5 separate regions of the Homo sapiens genome follow, and all the other regions are linked to region 1. The links come from fine-mapping of genetic effects on gene expression. A gene starts in region 1. Each other region holds a variant in brackets. All regions are shown on one strand. Distances are between the middles of the regions. Region 1 holds the start of PIBF1 (progesterone immunomodulatory binding factor 1). Region 2 overlaps PIBF1 (progesterone immunomodulatory binding factor 1). Region 3 has its middle 32 kb from the start of MZT1. Region 4 overlaps PIBF1 (progesterone immunomodulatory binding factor 1). Region 5 overlaps PIBF1 (progesterone immunomodulatory binding factor 1).

Evidence for each region. PIP is the estimated chance that this variant, and not a neighbour inherited with it, causes the effect. A credible set is the group of variants that fine-mapping cannot tell apart.
Region 2: its variant is the best candidate, but not a certain one, in a credible set for the expression of PIBF1 in whole blood (INTERVAL, PIP 0.57).
Region 3: its variant is the best candidate, but not a certain one, in a credible set for the expression of PIBF1 in whole blood (INTERVAL, PIP 0.83).
Region 4: its variant is the best candidate, but not a certain one, in a credible set for the expression of PIBF1 in whole blood (TOPMed, PIP 0.51).
Region 5: its variant is the best candidate, but not a certain one, in a credible set for the expression of PIBF1 in neural progenitor cells (Aygun 2021, PIP 0.54).

The regions. Positions count from the first base shown.
Region 1 is chr13:72,779,311-72,784,419 of GRCh38, reverse strand. It overlaps PIBF1 (progesterone immunomodulatory binding factor 1), which reads right to left and starts at 2,287. Exons shown (of 18, transcript NM_006346.4): 1 at 2,071-2,287; 2 at 699-997. The coding sequence starts at 950. DIS3 (DIS3 exosome endoribonuclease and 3''-5'' exoribonuclease) reads left to right here and starts at 2,520. Exons shown (of 21, transcript NM_014953.5): 1 at 2,520-2,815; 2 at 3,417-3,574. The coding sequence starts at 2,588. RefSeq lists enhancers at 2,387-2,496, 2,414-3,328 and a silencer at 2,777-2,826.
Region 2 is chr13:72,940,052-72,945,160 of GRCh38, reverse strand. All of the region lies in intron 14 of PIBF1 (progesterone immunomodulatory binding factor 1), which reads right to left. Among named protein-coding and RNA genes, the nearest start is that of KLF5, 120 kb to the left of the region's middle. The variant A/TA (reference allele first, on the strand shown) is at 2,896.
Region 3 is chr13:72,692,789-72,697,897 of GRCh38, reverse strand. No RefSeq gene overlaps it. Among named protein-coding and RNA genes, the nearest start is that of MZT1, 32 kb to the left of the region's middle. The variant G/A (reference allele first, on the strand shown) is at 2,951.
Region 4 is chr13:72,993,596-72,998,704 of GRCh38, reverse strand. All of the region lies in intron 16 of PIBF1 (progesterone immunomodulatory binding factor 1), which reads right to left. Among named protein-coding and RNA genes, the nearest start is that of KLF5, 63 kb to the left of the region's middle. The variant A/C (reference allele first, on the strand shown) is at 2,085.
Region 5 is chr13:72,824,539-72,829,647 of GRCh38, reverse strand. It overlaps PIBF1 (progesterone immunomodulatory binding factor 1), which reads right to left. Exons shown (of 18, transcript NM_006346.4): 7 at 2,530-2,638; 8 at 1,734-1,915. Among named protein-coding and RNA genes, the nearest start is that of PIBF1, 45 kb to the right of the region's middle. The variant AAAT/T (reference allele first, on the strand shown) is at 2,407.

The DNA of each region.
Region 1 (5,109 bases):
GGCTGGAGTGCAGTGGCACGATTGTGGCTCACTGCAAACTCTGCCTCCTGGGTTCAAGCAATTCTCCTGCCTCAGCCTCCCGAGCAGCTGGGATTACAGGCACCCACCATCATGGCTGGCTAATTTTTTTTTTTTTTTTTTTTTAAGTAGAGCTGGGGTTTCACAATGTTGGCCAGGTTGGTCTCAAACTCCTGACCTCAGGTGATCCCAACTGACAGATAAAACTGTGTGTATATGTCATGTACAACATAATGTTTTGAAGTATACGTACATTGTGAAATGGTTAACTCTAGCTAATTAAAAAATGTTTTACCTCACATAGTTATTTTAGTAATGAGAACACTTAACATCTGCTGTGTTTTTCAAAAACACAATGTTTTCCAAGATTACAATGTCATTAACTATAGCCACCATGCTGTCCAATAGATCTCTTGAATGTATTCCTCCTATTCAACTGTAATTATGTATCCTTTGACCAACATCTCCCCAACCCTCCTTCACCCCTAACCATGCCAGCCCTTGGTAACCACCATTCTATTCTCTACTTCTATGAACACCAAAATTATTTAAAGGCTGTACTTGTCAAGAAATATAAATGTATCATTTCAAGTTCAGATAATGTGTGTATTTAATTCTTATTTACCTGCCGTTTGAAGACAATAAAGCATATAGAACACAAAATTTAAACCTGATCTTACCTTTGTAAGATAATCCACTTTCAAATTGTCGATCATCATAGTTTTCTGGGATAGCTCAATTTTTAGTAACTGAATATTATGAAGTAGTTCTTTTCGTTCAATTAGCTGCCTGGTGATTCTGACTTTGCCCTCTCGCTCTTCTGATGAGGAAATATCATCCGTAGGAACTGTTGTTTCTAAACTAATATCTTCAGATTCCAGAGAACTAGAGATGTTCACTTTTTTTGACTCCTTTGAAATTTTTCGAGACATTTTTATTATTATGGATCAGTTTTCTTCTCTAATTTGATTTTAATATTCTGTAGGTTAAAAAACATTAATTCAAATGTACTATAAAATTAACTACAGAAATCATGGACTGTATTAAAGAGAGACTAAGGATTCCTTAAATAAATATTAGGCAATTTAGTGCATCCCAAATCTAGAACAGATTATTGCAGTTAAGTTAATGCTCAAATCAAACACATTAATTCCTAATATGAAGTCAGCCTTCGAGAAACTTAAAAAAACAGTTCCTGCGGGGAGGAATCTTACTTGGAGGAAACAAAGAAATGTACAAGATGAAGAAAAAAGCCCATTATAATCAAGAATGGCACCACTAAAACCAACACATGCTCAAAGATAACAGAAATCACGTCTGAGTTGGTCAGGGAAACGTTACACAGAGGTAGCACTTAGAATCTTTAAAGATTTGGACAGGCATGGTAAAAAGGAGAAATCATGCAGTTATTAATGATACGTAAGTGGAAGTAAAAAAACAAAGCCAAGTCTTGGAATAGTTACTCCTTTCACCGCCCCCCCAACACAAACACAAACACACACACACACACACACACACACACACACGCCCTTAACGATCAAGACTGGAAGGCCTTAAATGTCAAAATAGGGTTGGATTTTATTCTACAGGCAATGAGGCATCATTGAAGATGTTTTAAATAGGGAAAACGGGGACAAAAACATTTTTTATAGATAGCAGAATGAAAACAACAGGATATAAGAAAAATTCAAGAAATTCTAAATAGAACTTACTTCTAACTCTCTCATAAGAATGTTAGCAACTACCTTGTTTTAATACCTCATGATATAACAAATTATGCTATTAAATATTTCAGTTTTTCTAAACTGAATGATAAGGAAAGGTGTGTGGAGGGGAAACAGCGAGAACTATACTAAGATCGGCCTCCCTCCTTCTTTTTGAAGGGAAATAGGTAAGAAAAAGTGAATTCAAAGACAAATTCTCTCCTCGATTACAAAGGGCCCGAGACGGGGACTGCCTATACACTCGGCGTGAAAATTAAGCCCCAAACTTGGCAGCTCGGGGGATTCCTTGCCCCACGCGGGAAAGAAAGCGATGATAGTCGCAAGTTACCTCGAAAGTGTCAATTACTCCACACTGAAGCCTTGACCAGCAGCCAGTGCAGACACCGAGGGACCAAAGGCGTCTCCGGTCGGAAGCACAAGGTTGCAGGCCCTCAACAAGGGATTTCAAGGCAGGGGACCGTTAGGACCCGTAACCAAGACAACCATCTCCGCACCCGCAAGGAGGACAGAACCAGCACTCCCACAAGCCGCCGGAAGTCAACTCTCCCGGATGTTCCGAGGAGCGGAAAGCAACACACGTTGTGAGGTGGCGTCCAGAAGGAAGCCCCGCCTAGGCCACGGGCGGAAATGGCTCCTCGCCTTGCTTTGCCGCCCCTCCCCACTCTCGCCCAATCCCCGCGGCCGTCAGAGAGCCAACCAATGTTTATCTCGGCATTTTCCCGCGAGAAGTGTTACTAATATCCGGGAATGGAAAGGGAAGAACCTCCGGGGTTAGGCGTATTCTAGATTGACGCCTTTTGCTGGAAGAGCGCTGCTGGGGTTAGGATTCTGCGCGGCGAGGCAAGATGCTCAAGTCCAAGACGTTCTTAAAAAAGACCCGGGCGGGCGGCGTGATGAAGATCGTGCGCGAGCACTACCTGCGAGACGACATCGGCTGCGGTGCGCCCGGGTGCGCAGCGTGTGGAGGGGCGCACGAGGGGCCGGCCCTGGAGCCGCAGCCCCAGGACCCGGCGAGCAGCGTCTGCCCGCAACCGCACTACTTGCTGCCCGACACTAATGTGTTACTGCACCAGGTGCGTGGGCGGGCGAACCGCGGACAGCGCGGCCCCACGGGGACAAGGGGGTATGACAGGGAAACTGAGGCCCAGGGAGGCGGGTCTTTGGCAGTGTCACATACCTAGCGAAAGGGAAACCCCCTCGGGACCGAAGCTTCCTGTTCCCCAGGCCGAGGTTCTTTTCCTTGTGCTTTAAAAAATTTAGTTCTTGGAGTCGTAGTTCAGACACGTTATTTTTCTAACTCCTGGTGTCTCTTCTGCCTTAGATTGTAAGTGCCTGGAGGCCGGGGACCTGGGCTTCTGTGGCCTCCAGCCTGCGACTCCCAGGCAGCTTGTAAGTGCCTAGGAACAAAAAACTATGTGGGCCAACGTATTCCTTTATTAATACCCTTAATTCTACGAAGTCTTGTGATTGGTCTGTTTAAGTGTGCTTTTTTTAATAGATCTGAAGGGTTTAGTGACTATTGTCTCGTTTTCTATAGCCAAATAGCTTCTTGGCTTAACTTATTCAGTGTTTTTAAAACATAAAGTATTTATGCCCAACATAAAACAGGATTTTATGTTTGACAGAGCTATTTACAAATGAATATAGGAAAAATTAACTTTATCTTTCTTTAAGATTGATGTTCTTGAGGACCCTGCCATCAGGAATGTAATTGTGCTACAAACAGTTCTTCAAGAAGTGAGAAATCGCAGTGCCCCCGTATATAAACGCATCCGAGATGTGACTAATAACCAAGAGAAGCATTTCTATACTTTCACTAATGAGCACCATAGGTAGGAGGAATATTACGTTAAATATCAGAAAACCACAGGATTAGCAAAATTCGGGAGAGGGTTCCTGTGAGTAATTTATGACATTGTCAGAAGATAAGTGATAGATTTCATACCTTATTTAATTCTTACATGGCTGTGCAGAAGATAATGCTAAGTGGATCTCTCTAAGGTCACACAGGCATTGATGGGCTCAAGCCTAAAACCAAGGTCTGCTGACTCCTAGACTACAATAGGTACTTTAATTTCCAAAATGTTTTCATTTTGAATTGGTTTTAGCATGAGTTGGACCATAGAATCTTGGAAGATGAGATTTGCTTAAGTTCCTGGAATACCATATTATGTGAACAACTAACAGAGGGTAATAAAATATATGAGTTTGTGAAGTTTCTATTTTGTTTAAAAATAGAAAGTAGATTTATTCTTAATGGTCTTTTTAAAAGTTTAATACTTTGCAGCTGATTACATTGAGCAAGATTAGGTTAAGGAATAGAATTCTTTTTTTTTTTTTTTTTTTTTTTTTGAGATGGAGTCTCACTCTGTCACCCAGGCTGGAGTGCAGTGGTGTGATCTCTGCTCACTGCAACCTCCACCTCCCAAGTTCAAGCGATTCTTCTGCCTCAGCCTCCTGAGTAGCTGGGATTACAGTCACGCACCACTATGCCAGGCTAATTTTTGTATTTTTAGTAGAGACAGGGTTTCACCATGTTGGTCAGGCTGGTCTCGAATTCCTGACCTCGTGATCCACCTGCCTCAGCCTCTCAAAGTGGTGGGATTACAGGCATGAGCTACCGTGCCTGGCCAGGAATATAATTCTTTGTTGTGCTTTTAGATTCAAGACCTTTGAACTCAGTGTGTGGTCTCAAAAATATGATATTGCCTATTACGTTATATTACATAAATAATCTATGATGAGTATGGTACTTTTATTGGATTAGATCAGGGCTTCTCAATCTTGGCATTATAGATATTTTGAACTGAATAATTTTTTTGTGGTGGAAAGGCTGTTTTATACATTGTAGTATGTTTAACAGTGTTCCTAGCCTATTTGGCAGGATCACCACCCCTTACCCCCCCCACCACCACCACCACCACCACCACTCAGTTGTAATGATACAAAATGCCCTGAGGGGTGAATTCACTCAATTGAGAACCATTGGATTAGAGTGTAGACTTCTGGTAATGAAATTCCATCAGATTATGCACATTTTTAAAAACCTTAATATCTCAACTTTCTTGATTCTTATATCTCAAACTTCAATGTTCTTGTAAAGAATACCAGTAAAGCCCTTGTAGGCTTCTTATTGTTAGTACCTCCTTGAAATCCAGAAATAGCAACATCACTTGTTTTTCAGTGCAGAAAGACCCAAGTTTAAAACCAATTCAAAAATTTATGACTGTGTCTTTCACTGATGAGCTTAAAACATTAGCAGCTGGGCGTGGTGGCTTATGTCTGTAATCCTGGCACTTTGGGAGGTTGAGGTGGGCAGATCACTTGAGGCCAGGAGTTCCAGACCAGCTTAGCCAACCTGGAAAAT
Region 2 (5,109 bases), 160 kb before region 1:
AAACAGAAAGCCAAATACTCCATATTTTTACTTATAAGTGGGAACTAAACATTGCATACATATGGACATAAAGATGGGAACAACAGACTCTGGGAACTAGCAATGGGGAGAGGGAGAGGGGGCCAAGGGTTGAAAAACTATTGGGTATGATGCTCACTACCTGGGTGACAGTAGCAATTAAACTCCAAACCTTACCATCACATAATATACCCAGAGAAATACAAAAATCAGCCGGGCACTGTAGCAGGAGCCTGTAATTCCAGCTACTCAGGAGGCTGAGGCAGGAGAATCGCTTGAACCAGGGAGGCAGAGGTTGCAGTGAACCGAGATTATGCCACTGCACTCCAGCCTGGGCAAGAGAGTAAGACTCCATCTCAAAAAAACCAACCAACAAAAAACCCAGATAATAAACCTGCCCATGTACCCCTGAATCTAAAATAAAAGTTGAAATTAAAAAACAAGAACATTCACTGTTTATGTTTTGATCATATAAACACTATTCATCAATGAATACTTGTCTTAATTAAAAAAAATAAAACAAAAATGCAGCTTTTCACTTTTCTCCTAAAATGCTTAGTTTGTATGCAATTAAATACACTTCTGCATTTGATAAGAGCAGAAATTATTTAAATTATTATTAAACATTTTGCTATTGTGTTAAAATTGATTTTATTGTTTATTCTGAATACTTCTTTTTCTTCTTTTTTTTTTTTTAGACAGTCTTGCTCTGTCACCTAGGCTAGAGTCCTGCGGTGGTGCAATCTCAGCTCACTACAACCTCTGCCTCCTGGGTTCAACCGATTCTCATGCCTCAGTCTCCCAAGTAGCTGGGATTACAGGTGCCCACAACCACGCCCAGCTAATTTTTGTATTTTCAGTAGAGACAGGGTTTCACCATGTTGGCCAGGCTGGTCTTCAACTCCTGACCTCAGGTGATCACCCCGCCTCAGCCTCCCAAAGTGCTGGGATTACAGGCATTAGCCACCACACCCGGCTTATTCTGAATACTCCTATATAGGCAAAATCATTATTTACTCCAATTCTGGACCTATTATTTCCTTTAAAAATTGCCAGATTTACAAGAAAAATACTTATTTTATTAATATTATGGCCAGCAAGAGAAAAATAAATGAAACTCTAGAACAGAAATAAGATCCTACATTTACCGAGTGATTAACATATGCCAGTTAGTGTGCTAAGTGCTCATCTTAGATTGAACCCTCTCTCATTTTGGAGCAAACATGCAATATAGTATTATTATTTCCACTTACACTTTGGAAAACTGAGGCTTACAAAAAGATAACTTGCCTAAAGTCATATAACCAGTCTGCCTAACTTGAAAGTTCTTGGCTTTTTCCCCTTTTCCCCTAAACAAACAAGGTAGAACCCTGGGGCATGTCAACACTTAAGACATAATCAGAGAAAAAGAAGTCAACAAAGGAGACTGAGGAGTACGAAGGTAACAAAGTGGTGGGAGGAGACAGCAAGTGAAGATTTGGGAAGAGGGGAGATGACAGAAGATGAGGATGAGAAGTAGATTAGAATCAAATTGGCCATCTATGCCACGCTAAAGAATCTGGACATTGTCTTGTAGGCCATGGGCCTTTAAAAATAAGTCATGATTGACAGCACAGAGGACAGTTTTGGATAGGGAACTTTTAAAAAATTATTAATTTTTAAATTGATACATAATTATATGCATAGGGTATATGTGATATTTTGATACATGCATATGTGAAAATCAAATAGGGATATTTAGGACATCAATAACCTTAAACATTTGTCATTTCTTTGTATTAGGAACATTTCAAATCTTCTAGCTATTTTGAAATATACAATAAATTATTGTAAACTACAGTCATCCTATTGTGCAATTAAACACTACAACTCATTCCTTCTATCTAACTTTATGTTTGCATCCATTAACCACCCTCTCTTCATTCCCCATCTTCACCTTCCCAGGTTCTGGTGACTATTATTCTACTATTATTCTAGTAAGGTAAAGACTTTTGATAGGCTGATGAATTAAAGTTCACTTGCTAAATTAAAAAAAAATTCAGGCAATGTAGTATCTCATCTAAGTGTTATTTTTTAAGCCTTGTATTTCTAGTAATGAAATAAATGCCACTGTTCTTTACTAAACGATATTTTTCTTTTTTTGAGACAGAGTCTTGCTCTGTCACCTGGGCTGGAGTGCAGTGACACAATCTTGGCTCACTGCAACCTCTGCCTCCCAGGCTCAAGCAATTCTCTTGCCTCAGACTCCCAAGTAGCTGGGACTATATGTGCACACCACCACACCCGGATGATTTTTGTATTTTTAGTAGAGACAGGGTTTCATCATGTTGGTCAGGCAGGTCTCGAACTCCTGGCCTCAAGTTATCTGCCTGCCTTGACCTCCCAAAGTGCTGGGATTACAGGTGTGACCCACTGTGCCCAGCCTACTAAAGGATTTTTAATATCAACAAACAGACAAACATTTTGAAAGGCAAAGGAACCCTATAAATCATACTGTTTTTAATCTCTTCTATGAAAATAGCATACATCTTATAATTGCTGTTGATAAAGCCCATGCATGAAAAAATTGGTCTTGGCTGTTCATATTATTACTTCAATTGAGTTTTGAGTATGGCTAGTCCTTCATAGGCTGAGTACAATTGTCATTTAAGTATCTAAAAAGATCACAAGGGATTCGGCATTGAAACAGAAGAAAAACACAGAAACAGAGTTGTGCAATATAGGACAAAAATCACTGCCTAAAGTCTAAAAGAAAGTATGTCTAAAATGAAAAAAATTAAAGTAATAGCAAAGCATTGTATCACAGTTTAATCAGCAGCATCCTCCACTCTTCCTCACAGTGGTACACAAAACAGTGGGTTTTTTTTTTTTTTTTTT[A/TA]CATCATTGAAGTCTTAGAAATATGGTTGACCTTGAAATTTAATCAGATCTAGATTGTTTAGGGCCACATGGTAGGTATGTGAGTCTCCTCCTTTATAATGTTGAGGTGTGGTCCTGTGAGTTGTATGTGCCACAGACTCTTTCCAAGAGACTGAGCTCACTGGGGATGCTGGAAGAACACTCCTAGCAGTTGTTAGAGGCAGAAGAATGGGTCAGGCAACTCAAGGGGCAGAGATAAATGTTTTATTACTTCAAGTACTTACTTTATACCAATAAAGCTCATTTCATATTGCTAATCCATGACTAGTGGTATTTGTGTCCCCTTTGCATGACATATTTTCAGATTTTTTTCATTTTCTGTATGTTTAAACAGAAACACAATCCCATCCTCTCTGTATATGCTGGGTACATGCACACACACAAATATATTAAAACCCAAACAGAGAAACAGAAATTATTCTGCAATTTGTTTTTTGAAAAATCATCAATACAGTATAAATTTCTTTCAAAGTTAATACATATAGGTCTACTTTATTTTACCTATGCACCTTGACGCCTCTTTCAAATCTAGCAATGCCTTCTAGGTACAAAATTCCAGGTAGCTAAACCTTGCCATGTGGTTACTGATGACTGTGCATGTCCCACTTTCTAGACAAGCTTCCTGAAATTAAGTCAGTTGTAAAAGATAAATCTCTGCGTGCTTACAGTAGAAAATAAGGCCTTTGTGAATAAGGTTGGTTATGTTAGAAGTGAAAAACCATGTCTATTTTGTCATCAGTTGTTGAATATAGTGGGAAATTGATAAATATTTACTGAATAACTAGAAGGAGAGCATATATCAAGGTTTGAGGCAGCTAAGAAAGACCAATTCTTAGCTGCCTTACTGTTGGCAGTAATGTGGCACACTTTATGATTCTGGATTTTCTACTGTTTAACAAACTCCACACTGACACTTGACTCTTAACTAAACTTGGCAGTTTCTTGAGAATTAGTGGGTATACACAAATACACAAAAAAGAATAACTTGTTTTCTCTGTTATACTGGACCAACTAATAAAACAACGGTCGAAAGACATTGGACATCATGCAATGAAGGAGATCCCTGACACACAGGAAACAAACAAGGTAAACTCTATGACTGCCTTAGTTTATTGACTAGAGACAGCTTTCAAGCTGTGGTGCTGGGAAGGAGAATTAAGGCAGAGCCTGTCAAATTCCCTGAGTTAAGGAGCTGTTGATAGAAGTAATAACCAAGGTGGTTACAGTTCATATGGGAGACTACTGAAGAAAAGGGAGCTGCAAAGAGACAGAACTCTGACAATTTACAGATAGTGCCCCTTAAGTATTTACCTGGCACAGAACAGTGCATATGTATAAAGACAGGAGACAGAACTACAGACAAGATTGGTAGGAGCAATCTCTGAAGTGAACATGGGCAAGGCATAGTGCTTATTTCCATCAGCCAAAGTAGAAAACCTTACAATTTACAGGACATGGAATACTCAAAGAGTTTGGTTGTAGTAATGGGGGAGAAATTGGCCTTACGATAAACCCTTCTCTGCCTAAAAAAGCTTAAAAGCAAGATTTGGAAGAATCAAACTGTTTCCAAGAAACCTAACTATGTCCCAGAACAAAGCTAACAAAAACATATAGGAATACAAAATATATAGCATCAAGGTAAAATTTACAAGGTCTGGCATCCAGTAAATAATTACTACATATGCAAAGAAGCTGAACAATGTGATATATAATGAGAAAATTCAAATTTATTGAAGGCAGCCATGAAATGACAAAATAATAGAATTAGTAGGCAAGAATATAAAAAAGTTATTGAAATTATATTTCACATATTCCAGAAAATAAAGTTTGAGAATGTTAAGGAGAGACCTAAAAGACACAAAGAAGATCCAATTTGAACTTCTAGAAATGAAAACTACAATATCTGAGATAAAAACTGGATTGAACTGAAAGCAGATTATACAGTGGTGAAAAAAAGATTAGTGAACTGGAAGACACAGTAAAAGAAGCTATTCAAAAGAAAAGCAGAAAAAAGACTGAAAAAAACTGAAGAGAACATCATTTGTTCTGTTGTAGAATAACTTTAAGCAACCTAATATATATCTCATTGAAGTCCTCAAAGGAAGGTGAGAGGATTGAAGTATTTAAAAATTTAAGAAATTTATAAATTTGATAAACTCACATATGTAAGATGTT
Region 3 (5,109 bases), 87 kb after region 1:
TATCTAATACTTCTTTTTTATCCTTTGCAATTCTTTGTATCTTTCATGATTCTTTATTCAACAAATATTTACTCAGCCTCTGCTATATGCAGACAGTATATTAGTTGCTGAAAATACAAATGGATAAGACAGTCTTCTCATCCTCAAGGAGTTCATGGAGACAATACATGCAGTACAGGAATAAGCACTATGATAGAAGAAAGTACAGATCATTCCAGGAACACAGAGAGAAAGGCACCCAACAGGGCCTTCATACATAAGGATGGCAGCTAGCTTTTCCACTTCTTGGAATTGTCAGCAGCATATTTTACCTAGTACATGCTGGGGAAAAAAAAGGGTTGATAAAATGAATCAATAATCCGAGCTAGGAAGTTTAGTCAAATCCCAGCTCTGAAATCTATGTATATACCCCAGAATAGCCCATGTAAGACCTGGCTGCCCTATATTAGAAATGGCTTTTAGTAGGCTCCAGTTCTACATATTTAAAATGATACATGCAGCAAGTGTGTTCATATATTCATTGTCTGGAATAGTACCACAGACTAGACAGATGAACAGCACATGTTCCCTGTCCTCAAGATGTTCACAATCAAGTGAGACAGACTCACCGAATTACAACATAGAACTTGGCAGGATGGTGTAATCATTGAACAGGAACTGGAGTTATAGTTAGCAAGCCATGGGAGTTCATTCCACCAGGAACCAAGCAAGTTTTTTGCAAGGGAATTGCCTTTGAGCTGGTATTTAAATGGTTAAGAAAAATACTTCCACAAGCAAAAACCAGACAGTAAGGCAGCCCTTGAAAAAGCTTGGGCAAATGGATAGTCTTTAAAAATAAACAACTCACCTCCCCCCAACTAATTAATTAAGAGAGTTCCCTCTACCTTTTTCTGTATTTAGTTTCTTTGGCAACATGAGGAATGCTTAAGGTGATCCACAGCTGGTCTACCTGCAGACCAAATCAGAAATAGGGAGGGAATGCAACGTTTTGTTTTCTTTTCTTGAGATTTCCAATAAGCCTTTCCTAAATAGTTTAAAAGACAATAGAATTAAAACATATAAATTATGAATCCTCATGGATTTCATTTTTCCACTAGATGGCAGAAAAAGCACTTGTAATGGAAATTACATTGTCATCTATTTAATCAATTCTGCAGACTTTTTTAAATAAAGGGAGGTATATTTCATTCAGTTTGAACAGTACAATATGATTATAGTACAACTGATTATTCCATAACTAATTTAATCATATTAAGCTTAAAATTAAAAAGAAAACTTTAAATTAGTTTGTGTTTATATAAGTACATCTATGTCCAAACATCTCAATTAAGATATAAATGATGGAGTTTCATTGGCTTTAGAATACTACTATACTCTCTTTTAATGCAGACCTTTACATAAAAGGCAGCATTCAATATACTTAAAATTAATACAGAGTAATTTTTTATGTTACACATGGATTTAATTGGGGGTACAAATGAAGTATACTTAATTATGATATAGTGCAGGTAGGGATAATAATATAAGTTTAAAAAGTGATAAAATCACGGCTGTAAACTCAAAATGTTCTCTTAAAAAAAAAAGATAAAAGCTGTGAGGACTAGGTAAATATAGCACAAAAGTTAAATACAGTATATAGCTTTTCTTAGCATGCCAGTAATTCTAATGTGCTTTTTTCCATTGTATTTGTGTGCCATTGTCATTTATCTACAGTCATTCTTCAGAGACATTTGTGATTACACTACTTTACTAGGCACTTGAGTAGAGCTGCATAGACAGTTGTACCCTTACTCTAGTTCATTACAATCAAAGAGAAAATTATTTTATGCACCTACAAGGAGCCAAATGGTGATAAGTGAGTTACACAAAGGAAAATGTGTTAGGAAACAGTAACATAATTTAATAATGTAATATCAAATTGTAAAATAAAAACAGTTCAAAGAAACTAAGTCTTTTGTCTTTATTTCAGCTATTGCTTTTGCTACTGTTTATCTTAGAACTGGCTTTCCAAAAAAATAAAGAGTGAACCATCAGCAAAAAAGGAGGAAAAATAGAGAATGGAAAATGGGAAGTGATGAAATGGAGTAAAGTCCCATCATTCATTCAGTCCACAAACGTTTGTTGAATGTTCGCTCCAGGTCAGGAATGGTGGTGGGAACAGAGACATGGCTTCTTCTCTTACAATGAAAGTACAACAGAGAGAGTCGGGGAGGGGTGAGCAAACAGAAAGCAGTGAAAGAATTGATGAAATTTCATGACAGTTATCATGGTGGTGGTGTTACCCGAGCTCACTTCTCTCCCACCTTTGCATAACTGCCTCCTCACCAACAAAACAAAAAAGTAAAACTCTGGAGTGTGCTAGGAATGCCCACAATCCTCAGGGATCTAGGGAGGGTCTTGTGTTCTGAGAAGGGTGGATGTAAAGCACATCCGTAGTGACTTCCAAGTGGCTTGCTATCTTAGAGAGTAAGTTATACACAGTCCTGGGGTCTCTGGCTTAGAAAACTCTGTGCTGTGGATGGCAAAGATACTTGATCTTATTTTGAGTCAAGGTGAGTCAATAACTTTCTGGGAATAAGCTGCTCACATTTAAGCTGTGCAGTAAATTAGTTTCCAGGACAATGTAATTTCTGAGTAAATTATCTTCCTTGGCATATTGAGTGGAAGGCTATTTTTCATGCCTGTTTCTTTGTAAAGGCAACTGTGGGTTAAAAACAAATATAAATGTTAGAATGAAAGAGAATCTGATCTGGGGTACTTTGTATGAAGAAACATTACATTGGATTTGCAGAAGCATTATTTCCTTGCAGAACCAAATTTTAGAAAGTCCTATTGGTCTTACTTCTGGCACCTCAGGTCCTACTGGATGCTAAATGTGGGACCCCAGTCAGTCTGTGCTCCAGTTTCTTAAATGACATATCATCAAGGATTAGACTTTCAGCTTTTTACT[G/A]TAAAGAATAGAGGTTGAAGCAGCTCACTATTCAACTAAAACAAACTGAGAAGAACTCTGGTGCAAAGTCTCAAGGCCGACGCCCTCACCCCAATGTTTTAGGTCTTCAGCTCTCCTTTTGCTCTCCAAATAAAGAAATAAAAATCTGGGCTTTTTGCATAAATTCTTTCTTGTGTTCTGCCCATCTCAATGGTGTCACTGCAAGTGTCTTTCTATATCTATAACCCGAGCCATAGAGTAACTTCTTTAGGACTGTACGAATGGCTCTCTCGTGCTGACCCAGCTCTGAGGAGACTCTGCCCCCAGCACACCGAGTGGTTTTTGTCTTTCTGCTGAAACCTGGGAAGAATGTGTAGCAGGGCTCCTCCGAGCACAGGACCCTGTGGATCTACACTCAGCACATCTTTAATGGGCTCAGAGCAGTGACAGCTGTGACGAATACCACGGCAATTTCCCAGATAAGATTGTATCCGAGTAGGGGCTACATTTCCTTCAGAGCTGCAGAGGCCATTATTATTCTTTGGAGAGGAATTCTGAGGAGGAAATAGCTGATTTAAATGCCTGCTGTCAGTTGCCAAAGAAATTGTTACAAAATACGGCTATAATGATGTGGAAAACTGCCCATTGCTTTGGATCCCACTTTTTTTTGTGTGTTCCCCTCCATTCATCATCTAAGATTTCCCTCTTAGCCAACCAGGTGCATGAAAACTGGTGCGCTAGACAAGCCTTCTAACTTGGAGTCTCAGTTTGGGGTTCTGTCGTGTTTTTTTGTTTTTGTTTTTGTTTTTTTTATGGTTAGCCAGTCATTTCTCGTGACCTCTTAAACACTTGTGTGGTCTTCTGAGAAACTGTGTTTAGCTCAGAAATACTAACCCAGCTTGCCTGGGTTAAATTTCACTTATTCAACAAGTACTTGTTGAGCGCCCACACATGAGAGGGCAGCATAAGGTAGTGGTTTGGAGCCAGGTTTCTGGAGTCGAACTGCCTAGATAATAGCCCTGGCTCCACCAGGATGACTAGTTGTGTGATTTTGTTGTGTGATGTTAATATGAATAAAAATAATAATGGCTCACAGTAGGTGTTCATTAATACGTTCACTACATCTGTAAATAAGAACATTATTACCATCAAGAAATTTAGGCCAGATGCAGTGGCTCATGCCTGTAATCTTAGCACTTTGGGAGGCTGAGGCAGGCGGATCACTTGAGGCCAGGAATTCGAGACCAGCCTGGCCAACATGGTGAAACCCTGTCTTTACTAAAAATACAAAAATTAGCCAACTGTGGTGGCACGTGCCTATAACCCCAGCTACTTGGGAGGCTGAGGCATGAGAATTGCTTGAACCCAGGAGGTGGAGGCTGCAGTGAGCTGAGATAACCCCACTGCACTCCAGCCTGGGTGACAGAGGAAGACACTGTTTCCAAAAAAAAAAAAAAAAGAAAATAAAAAGAAAAGGAAAAAAAAGAAAGGTATCATCTAAGGTCTAAGACAGGACATGTACAAGAATAATATAAAACAAGATAACATTCTGTGTGGGGTCTCCATTTCCCCTCCACAGTGCCCTAGTGGAGGTTCTCTATGAGGGCTGTGCCCCTGCAGCAGGCTTCTGCTTGGGCACCTAGCCTTTTTCATACATCTTCTGAAATGTACATGGAGGCTGCCAAGCCTCATTCAGTCTTGCACTGTATGCCTACAGACTTAACATCACATGGAAGCCGTCAAGGCGAAGAGCTCACACCCTCTGAAGCAGCAGCCTGAGCTGTATCCGGGAACTTTGAGCCACAAATCGAGCCAAGGGGTCAGGATGCAGGGAGCAATTTCCCAAGGCTGCGCAGGGCAGTGAGGCCCTGGGTCTGGCCCACAAAACCATTCTTTCCTCCTAGACCTCAGGGCCTGTGATGGGAGGGGCTGCCACTTAAATCTCCAAAATGCCTTCCAGACATTTTCCCCATTCTCTTGGCTATTAGCAGTTGGCTCTCTTTTAGTTATGCAGATTTCTGTAGCAAGTACTTGCTTCACAGCCAGCTTGAATTCCTCTCCCCAGAAAGCTTTTTCTTTATCTGCCATGTGACCAGGCTGCAAATTTTCTAAGCTTTTATGCTCTGCTTTCTGTTTAACTATAAATTCCAACTTTAAGTCATTTCTTTGCTCCCACATCT
Region 4 (5,109 bases), 210 kb before region 1:
GTGAAAATAAAATAGTAATTAGAATCATGCACATGAATCTTTTGATCATTAATACTCATTTAATATAACTGACAATTACAACATTCTATAGTCTAGTGGTTTCCACGTTTTTCTGCACACTGAAATCACCTGTGGAGCTTCAAATATTGCCAGTGATGACTGTGTCCCAACCCCAGAGACTGTGAGATAATTGATGTGGTGTGGCCTGGGCTTTGGAATTTTTTTTTTTTTTTAGATAGGATCTCACTGTCACCCAGGCTGGAGTGCAGTGGTGTGGTCTCGGCTCACTGCAGCCTCTACCTCCTGGGCTCAAGCCATCCTCCTGCCTCAGTGCCTGAGTAGCTGGGACTACAGGCGCATGCCACCACGCCCAGCTAATTTTTTTGTATTTTGGAATTTTTGAAGATCTCAAGTGATTCTAATAGACAGACAAATTTGGGAACCACTGGCATAGCTACCTTCCACTGTAGATGCTCCACATATATTCGCTGAGTAGACTATTTAAGCATTTAACTTTTTCTCTTCTTCTTTTAAACTGTCGCATTTCCTTTGAATTCTTATATAAAGATGGTAGAGAAAAAGAATCCAATCTTGGCTACTAGTCAGCAGTTAAACAGTAAGTTTAATACAGATTCAGGATTTCTTTAGCTGTATTATCCCTTATCCTTTTACAAATGATAAGTGGGGTTGGCTTCAGTTGCCCTTTGAACTAAGAATTAATTGTGATGAACTTTTTGAAGAGATCAAAAATTTCACCCGTTCTTGCTCCCAAGTGTATTTGTCTTTCATATCCATAGACAAATCTTTAGTACATAACACTAGTGGGTATTTATGATTAATTACTAAATTGATACATCATATACAAGTATATGGAGAGATGACAGGCTAAACTCTTCTTAATCTTTATTTATCAGAACAGAACAGTGGTAGGCTATGTAACAGGTAATTTTTTCCTATTATCTTATTGTATCTTCATGCCAAAACACGAAAGTTATGGTGATAGAACAATGTTCTGCTCTCTTCTACTAATCTGTTTATAGACACCAGCTCTGTGTCACAGCAAGTTCCTACAGGCCTTTCTCTTCTGGCTGTCATTAGTTCTATTTAGAACCATCTAACTTGAGTGAGTATTTTAAAGCAGTGTTGCTGAGTTTAAGCCATATAACCTTAATAGATTTTAGGGTTGCGAGACGTGTCAGAAGAAATGGTGTCAGAATCCTTTCTCCTTTCTGCAGTAGTGGGCCTGGCTTGGCCAATGTACATGAGAATGCATATACTTGCAGACATTGCCAATCTGATATATGATTATCTGGGCCATTTGGGGACTCTTTTTGCTTTCAAGATTATGTTGTTTCATTTATATGCTCCACTATGGTGAAGTATATAATTATTGATTTGATGTCAAATGGGTATGGTGTTATGGTAGATTTCAGCTCCTGTTCTACTTACCAAGATAAGTAGAAGGGAAAGCCTATGAAAAGAAAAACTTTCTATCTGAAAGAACATCTCTTTATTAGCCACAACTTTTCTATCTTTGGCATGAAGATAAAATAAGAGCAAAAATCCCCTCCAAAACAATCTAGCACTATTCTACAGATAAATAAGGTAAAGGGGGGTTTAGTGGTCAGGAGATTAGAAGGGAAATTCACATCTTTGCTTTATCCTAAGATCACCCCAGTTTGGGGTGTTGTCACAGTACCACTTTCGTTAATGTGACTGTACAAAAAATATTAGCAGTTTCTGAAATCCAGGCAAAGAACACTTTAAGATCAGCAAAATTCTGTAAAATTCTTATTAGGATAATACAGCTACAGTGGGTACCCAAATAACATTTAGAACACATTTTCAATTTTATTATGTTTGGCTTATATAATGATCCAACTTATATCGATGGTAAATTTGAACCAAGAAAATTCCACTTCAATTTTTTTTTTTTTAGAGACAGGGTCTTGCTCTGTTGTCCATGCTAGAGTGCTATGGTGTGATCACAGTTCATTCAAACCATCCTACCGCCTCAGCCTCCTGAGTAGCTAGGACTACAGGGGCATTCCCCCACACCCAGCTAATTTTTAAATTTTTGGTAG[A/C]GATGAGGTCTTACTATGTTGCTCAGGCTGGTCTCTCACTCCTGGCCTTAAGTGATTCTCCAGCCTTGGCCTCCCAAAGTGCTGGGATTATAGGCATGAGCCACTGCACCTGGCTAAGCACATGTAGTGGTACTATTTTAGTATAAAGCTATTAGCAAACGACACATCTATTCTTGACATTATTATTGTTTAAACTTAGGCTGCCTAATCTAGTTCAATGAGCTTTAGTTTTATAATTGATAAAATGTAAGCTTCTGTTACCTTTTAGGATTTTTGCCAGTCTGATAAGGGTTTGTGTATGTTTATTTTGCATTCCTTTTACAGTGAAGTTGAGCAGTTTTTTTTTTTTTTTAATATATTGAAGGTTTTTTTTCAGTTGATTGCCTTGGCCCATTTTTCTACTGAGTGGTCATTTTCTTATACATTTCAAGGAGCTCTTTATATGTTAGGGAAATTAGCCCTTTGTCTTTAATATGAGTGGCAATTTTTCCAGTTTACCTCTTACTTGACTTTGTTTATGACCCCCCCCCCCCGCTTTTTTTTTTTTGTTATGAAGAACATTTGATTGTGATGTAGCAGAATATGTCAATCTTTTCTTCTGTGGTCTTCTCCATGTTTTTTTCCTATATTTTCTTAAGTTACTTTTGTGGTTTTTCTTTTCTTTTTTTTTTTGAGATGGAGTCTCGCTCTGTCATCCAGGCTGGAGTGCAGTGGCAAGATCTCGGCTCACTGCAATCTCCGCCTCCCAGGTTCAAGCAATTCTCTGCCTCAGCCTCCAGAGTAGCTAGGATTACAAGCACCCACAACCACGCTCAGCTAATTTTTGTATTTTTAATAGAGACGGGGTTTCACCATCTTGGCCAGGCTGGTCTTGAAGTCCTGACCTCGTGATCCACTCGCCTCGGCCTCCCAAAGTGCTGGGATTACAGGCGTGAGTCACTGTGCCCAGCCTCTTTTCTTTTTCAAACATATAGATCTTTGATTGGTTTAAAGTTTATCCTGGCTTATGGTAAAACATATGAATACAACATCTGTCCCCTCAAGATGGCTCTCCTATAACAACATCATGTACTGAAGAGACCATTTTTTCCCCCACTGATGCCATCTTTATAATGTACTAAACTGCTGTAAGTATATTATTTATTTATGGACTTTAAAACTCTGTTTCTACAGTCTGTCTATTTATGCACCCATGTCGCACTGTTTTAATGTTTTACTCTTTAATGAATGATGTATTTTTCTGGCTGTATTCTTGGAGATAGGCGTGGGATCATGCTGAAGGGAAAACAAAATTAGAAAGAACTTTTTTTTTTTTTTTTTGAGACGGAGTCTCATTCTGTCGCCCAGGTTGGAGTGCAGTGGTGTGATCTCGGCTCACTGCAACCTCTGCCTCCCAGGTTCAAGCAATTCTCTGCTTCAGTCTCCCAAGTAGCTGGGATTACAGGTGCCCACTACCATGCCCGGCTAATTTTTTGTTATTTTTAGTAGAGACGGGGTTTCACCATCTTGGCCAGGCTGGTCTTGAACTCCTGACCTCATGATTCACCCACCTCAGCCTCCCAAAATGCTGGGATTACAGGTGTGAGCCACCGCACCTGTCCGCAAGAACCTCTTTATTATATTAAGTGTTCACAGCCATGAAAGTATTTGAATATGTCTTACACCGACCTTTTTGACATAAATTGTCCTATCCTAGTTGATGCTACTATTACAATGAAATGATCATGATTCATGAGATCCCAATTCACAAACTGACAAAGCAAACAGGAAACAATCCAACATAACAGGCAATAATTAGAAAACATTTTTGTCACTACGAAGAGAAATCCTTTGGTAAGATGAAATCATTTTGAAGCCCTCTGCTTTGCTTCTAACCTGGTTCGGTTCTTATCCTGTGTCTGGCTTCTGGGTATTGGCTTCATCTCGTATTTCAGATTCCGCTCTCATTGTTTGCATTTGAGTTTGGCATCTCATCTCCCTGCCTTTTGATTCTACTTTCCTCTTCTATAACTATCATTTTTCTGATTGGTCAGTGGGTTTATTTGCAGCATTGCCTCATTATTTGTAAATATTGTTTATTGCAGAGAATGTGACTACAGAAAAGGAAACTGTGATGCTCAAAGAAGAATGTTTTAAGTACTAAGTTTGACTGGATTCTTTTTCTTATACTGTATCTACTGCTCAAAAATCATGCCATTGATTTAGGTTCCTATTTGTACTTCAACTTTCCAACAAATATTTTTTTCCCCTCTTTTCAGAGTTTCTGCCCTTTTGTTTTCTCATTGATAGAAACAATGTACGCCTTTTTCCTTATTACCTAATATTATCTAGCTTCTTAATCGTGTTGTTTGCTGAGATTAATTCTGTACTGACTGCTTTTAAGACTGAAATTTCTTTTTATTGTACACTTTGGCAAGTTCCACTATTTCTTCCACTTCCCTCTCTTTCTCTCCCTTCCCCGCCTCCGGCCTCTACCTCCCTTTCTCCCTTTTTTTTTCTTTTTTTTTTGAGACAGGTTCTTGCTCTGTTGCTCAGGCTGTAGTGCGGTGGTGCAAATATGGCTCACCACAGTGCCTTCACTCTGGGGCTCAAGGGATCCTACTGCTTTAGCCTCCTGAGCCGCTGGCACCACATGCACCTACCACTGTCCCCAGTTAACTTTTTAACTTTTTGTAGAGACTGTGTTACCCAGGCTAGTCTTGAACTCCTTCCTCCCTCATTCTGTTTGTTATTTGATGGCATACAATTTATTAATGTTCTGAGAGGGTGCTGGTGCTGTAAAAGAAACATGCTTTCATGGTATTACTGCTCTGTCTTCTAAAATCAAATTTCTGAAAACTCTGATGCCATCCTGATTCTTTTTTTTTTTTTTTTTGAAATGGAGTCTCGCTCTGTCGCCCAGGCTAGAGTGCAATGCCGTGATCTTGGCTCACTGCAAGCTCTGCCTCCTGGGTTCACGCCATTCCCCTGCCTCAGCCTCCCGAGTAGCTGGGACTACAGGCGCCCGTCACCATGCCCACCTAAT
Region 5 (5,109 bases), 45 kb before region 1:
AAACAGATACATAGACCAATGGAACAGAACAGAGGCCTCAGAAATAACACCACACATCTACAACCATCTGATCTTTGACAAACCTGACACAAACAAGCAATGGGGAAAAGATTCCCTATTTAATAAATGTTGTTTGGAAAACTAGGTAGCCATATGCAGAAAACTGAAACTGGACCCCTTCCTTATACCTTATACAAAAATCAACTCAAGATGAATCAAAGACTTAAATGTAAGACCTAGGATCATAAAAATCCTACAAGAAAACCTGGGCAATATCATTCAGGATGTAGGCATGGGCAAAGACTTCATGTCTAAAACACCAAAAGCAATGGCAGCAAAAGCCAAAATTGACAAATGGAATCTAATTAAACTAAAGAGCTTCTGCACAGCAAAAGAAACTATCATTAGGGTGGATAGGCAAACTCCAGAACAGGAGAAAATTTTTGCAATCTATCCATCTGACAAAGGGCTAATATCCAGAATCTACAAAGAACTTAAACAAATTTACAAGAAAAAACCAAACAACCCCATCAAAAAGTGGGCAAAGGATATAGACACTTCTCAAAAGAAGACATTTATGCAGCCAACAGATATATGAACAAATGCTCATCATCACTGGTCATTAAAGAAATGCAAATCAAAACCACAATGAGATACCATCTCACGCCAGTTAGACTGGCAATCATTAAAAAGTCAGGAAACAACAAGCTGGAGAGGATGTGGAGAAATAGGAATGCTTTTACAGTGTTGGTGGGAGTGTAAATTAGTTCAACCATTGTGGAAGACAGTGTGGCAATTCCTCAAGGATCTAGAACTAGAAATACCATTTGACCCAGCAATCCCATTACTGGGTATATATCCAAAGGATTATAAATCATTCTAACATAAAAGACACATGCACACGTATGTTTACTGCAGCACTGTTCACAATAGCAAAGACTTGGAACCGACCCAAATGTCCTTCAATAACAGACTGGATAGAGAAAATGTGGCACATATGTACCATGGAATATATATGCTATGCAGCCATTAAAAAGGATGAGTTCATGTCCTTTGCAGGGACATGGATGAAGCTGGAAACCATCATTCTCAGCAAACTATCACAAGAACAGAAAACCAAACACCGTATGTTCTCACTCATAAGCGGGAGTTGAACAATGAGAACACGTGGACACAGGGAGGGGAACATCACACACCGGCGCCTGTCGGGGAGTGGGGGGCTAGGGGAGGGATAACATTAGGAGAAATATCTAATGTAGGTGACGGGTTGATGGGTGCAGCAAACCACCATGGCATGTGTATACCTATGTAACAAAACTGCATATTCTGCACATGTACCCCAGAACGTAAAGTATAATTTATAAAAAAAAAAAAAAAAAAGCAAACATATCTCACTTCATTTTTTAAACCCTTCTGCATTATTTGCAACCCAAATTATCCTAATGGATACATCAGCTCATTACTGTATTCAAGAAACGTACCTAAAACCAAATGACAAAGTTTTAAAATAAAGGCACATGGGAAAATTACACCACTTAAATGTATGCAAACAGAAAGCAGAAATGTCAAAATCAAAAAATAAAATAAAATAAAATAAAATAAGGTATTATCTTAGTATTATCATATAGAATAGACCTTAAAAAAATCACTAAATCTTCCCCAAAGCCAAGAGTTCCCTCAAAGAAAATCTGTTAATTGGTATCTATTTACGTGGGAAATAATGCAAATCTTGCCTGGATGCTACATATTTTTCATACATCTCTTCTCTAGCCTTTTTGCTTTCTTCCAGTTGAGCTTGAAGTCTTTCAAGGCGATCCTCTTCATGAGCACAGCGAACACTAAGCTCCATGTTTTGGCGATTAAGATATTCTTTATCCTTTTGCAGTAAAGTAACAGTTTGCTCTAAGGTGACTACCTACATACATGTAGAAACAAAAAGTATCCACAGTGATGCCATCTTACTTTTCAAGCTTGACTGTATTAATTTCTTTCCTTCATGTTTTCATTCACCACATGAAAATTTTCCTTTTAAAAAGGGCTAATTCTTAGCATGCAACTTTTTTAAAATCTAAAAATAGCTACTAAAAGTCTCTTTTTGGGGCTGGGCATGGTTGCTCACACCTGTAATCCCAGCACTTTGGGAGGCCAAGGCAGGTGGATCATTTGAGGTCAGGAGTTTGCGACCAGCCTGGCCAACATGGTGAAACCCTGTTTCTACTAAAAATGTAAAAATTAGTAGGGCATGGTGGCACACGCCTGTAATCCCAGCTATTCAGGAGGCTGAGGCAGGAGAATCGTTTGAACCTGGGAGGCGGAAGTTGCAGTGAGCCAAGATCGCACCACTGCACTATAGCCTGGTCAACAGGGAAAGACTCCTGTCTCAAAAAAAAAAAAAAAAAAAAAAAA[AAAT/T]TTATCTTTTTGGGAGGAACTACATAACAAAAAAAATGTCTCTCCTTCAAATCTACTCTGGGCTATTTTTTTCACTAATACTATGCTATATAATATAAGTGACTCTAATTATAAGCTTACCTCTTTTGATAATTCACTTCGTTCTTTTGTTTGAATCATGTGAGAGGCTTCAAGTATTTCATGTTTTCTCCTAAGCTCAATTACTTCCTGTTCAAGTGCATCACGTTCACTGTTAAAATAAAATTCAAAGAGACATGTAAATTTTACATCCCCTTGTACAGCGTACACTTTAAAAGGGTTGACTATGTATTAGGACGCTGAATAGAGACACTAGCAATGGGGCTTCAGTGTAATTCCATGAACTATAAAGTACCTACTTTTCAGATTTAGAAGGGACTCTGTTTCAGACCTTGTTCAAATACATACATATCAATTTATTACCTTTAAGGAATATACAAACTACATAAGCCAGTACAGTAAATAATAAAACTTACTAACATACATTTGGTATTTTTTCATTAGTCATCTTCAATCTTATCTTGAGGTTAAAACTTTTAAAGAATGTATACATGGCTCTAGGCTTTCAGTTCAGTTAAGGTAAAAAAAAAAATACAACTTATCATTTAGATTGCATAGTAGATACGTAGGCAGGCATTCTTGTGACTATTTCATTCACAAATTGTTTATGATTACCCAGATTTTAATTTCCATTTTAAGACAAGTTCCCCAAAAAAGTTATACCAAGAATTGGACTAAAACCTACAACACACATTTTTTAAAATGAGCAGAGAAACAGATTTACTAACTCTTAACTACTTCCCTGCAGTCAGAAGCAGTGCCTTTGCACTTTATTTCACTGACCCACCTGGTATTTCCACAGAGAGGGCTGTTAGGAATTGTTTTCCTTTGCATCAGTTTTTCAAAAACGTTTAGAAAGCCTTTTTTCTTCTAGTTAACAAAATATTATGTTTATTGAAGAAAAACTGAGCAAAGCACAAAATAACAATCACCTACAAACCCAATAAGTAAAGATGACTATCAGTATTACTATTCTGATACATATTACTATACGTATTTTGTGCTTTTTTATTTTTAGAATGTTTAGATTATTTTTAATTAAAAAAATTTTTAAATTTTATTTTGTGCTTTCACATGCAATTTTTTAAAAAATCTTTTTTTTAAATTTTTTTTTTTTTTTATGAGATGGGGGTCTTGCTATGTCACCCAGACTGGACTTGAACTACTGCACTCAAGTGATCCTCCAGCCTCAGCCTGCCAGAGAGTTAGGACTACAGGTGCATGCCACCATGTGCCTAATTTAATTTTTTTTTTTTTTTTGTAAAGACGGTCTTGCTATATTGCCCTGGCTAGTCTTAAAGTCCTGGGCTCAAGTGATCCTCCTGCCTGTGCTTCTGAAAGCACTAGGATTACAGACATGACACGCTGTAACCAGCTTGGTTCTTTTTAATGCTTTTACTTACCAATCATTAACACTGTTGTATTTGTTTTGTAATATTAAATAAATATTACTTTGTCATATTTATTCAAACCCTCTCTCTTGTTAATATATGTGAATATATGCAGGTGTCTTAACGGTATATGTGGAGAATGGGTTCCAGACCCACCCCCACAACCTGAATATGCAAATCTGTACATGCTGAAGTCCTGCAGTTGTTGCAGATCCCACCAAACAGTCAGTCCTCTGTATACTCAGGTTTCACATCCCGTGAAAATTGTATTTTCGATTGGTGTTAGGTTGATAAAAACCTGAATATAAGTGGACCCCATGTTGGTCAAGGGTCATGTATCTATATGTGTATACACACCTACACACACATACTCATACATGTGCATTTGTTTCCTCAACTGAGACATTAGGTCCCTTTATCCCTAAATAATTAGTGTGAATTTACTAAGATTAAAGATAGTCTCTTATATAATCACAGTATAATTATCATATTCAGGAGACTTAGCCCTAATATAATATTATCTAACATACAATCCATTTTCAAATTTTGTCAACTGTCTCCCAAAACACCCTTTGTGAATTTTTTTTTCCCTGAGCCAAGGCTCTATTACCATAATGGTAATCCAAGGATCTATTATCATCATATTATAATCTATTACCATGCATCTAGATGTCATGGGGTTTTAGTCTCCTTTAACCTTGAAGATTTCTTAGTTTTCCTTGTGTTTTATGACTTTTTATAGAGCAGAGGCTAGCTGCATCATAGAATGCTCCTCAATTTTCACTTGTCTGAAGTTTCTTCATTATTAGATTCAGGTTAGGCACTTGGGCAGGAATACTACAGAAATGATTCTCAGAAATGATTCTCTGATACAGAAACGCATTCTCAGTATGTTATGTGAAGATGTACTGAGGTATGTGACGTCAGTTTATCCCATTATTGGTGATAGTAACTTTGATCACTAGGTTAAGGTAGCATCTGCCAGAGTTTAACTATAAAGGTATCCTTTTGCCCTTTAAAATTAGTAAGTAATTGTGAAGAGATGCTTTGTGTAAATATCCTATTCCCTAACATACTTATACTTCATGGTTTTATATTCCAATGATGATTCTGAATCAATATTATTATGCGGCTACAAAATGGTCATTCTTACATGCATATACATTTATTGCTTGGATTTCAACCATAAAGATCCTCTTTCCCAAAAAGGATATATTTATTACCACTGAAC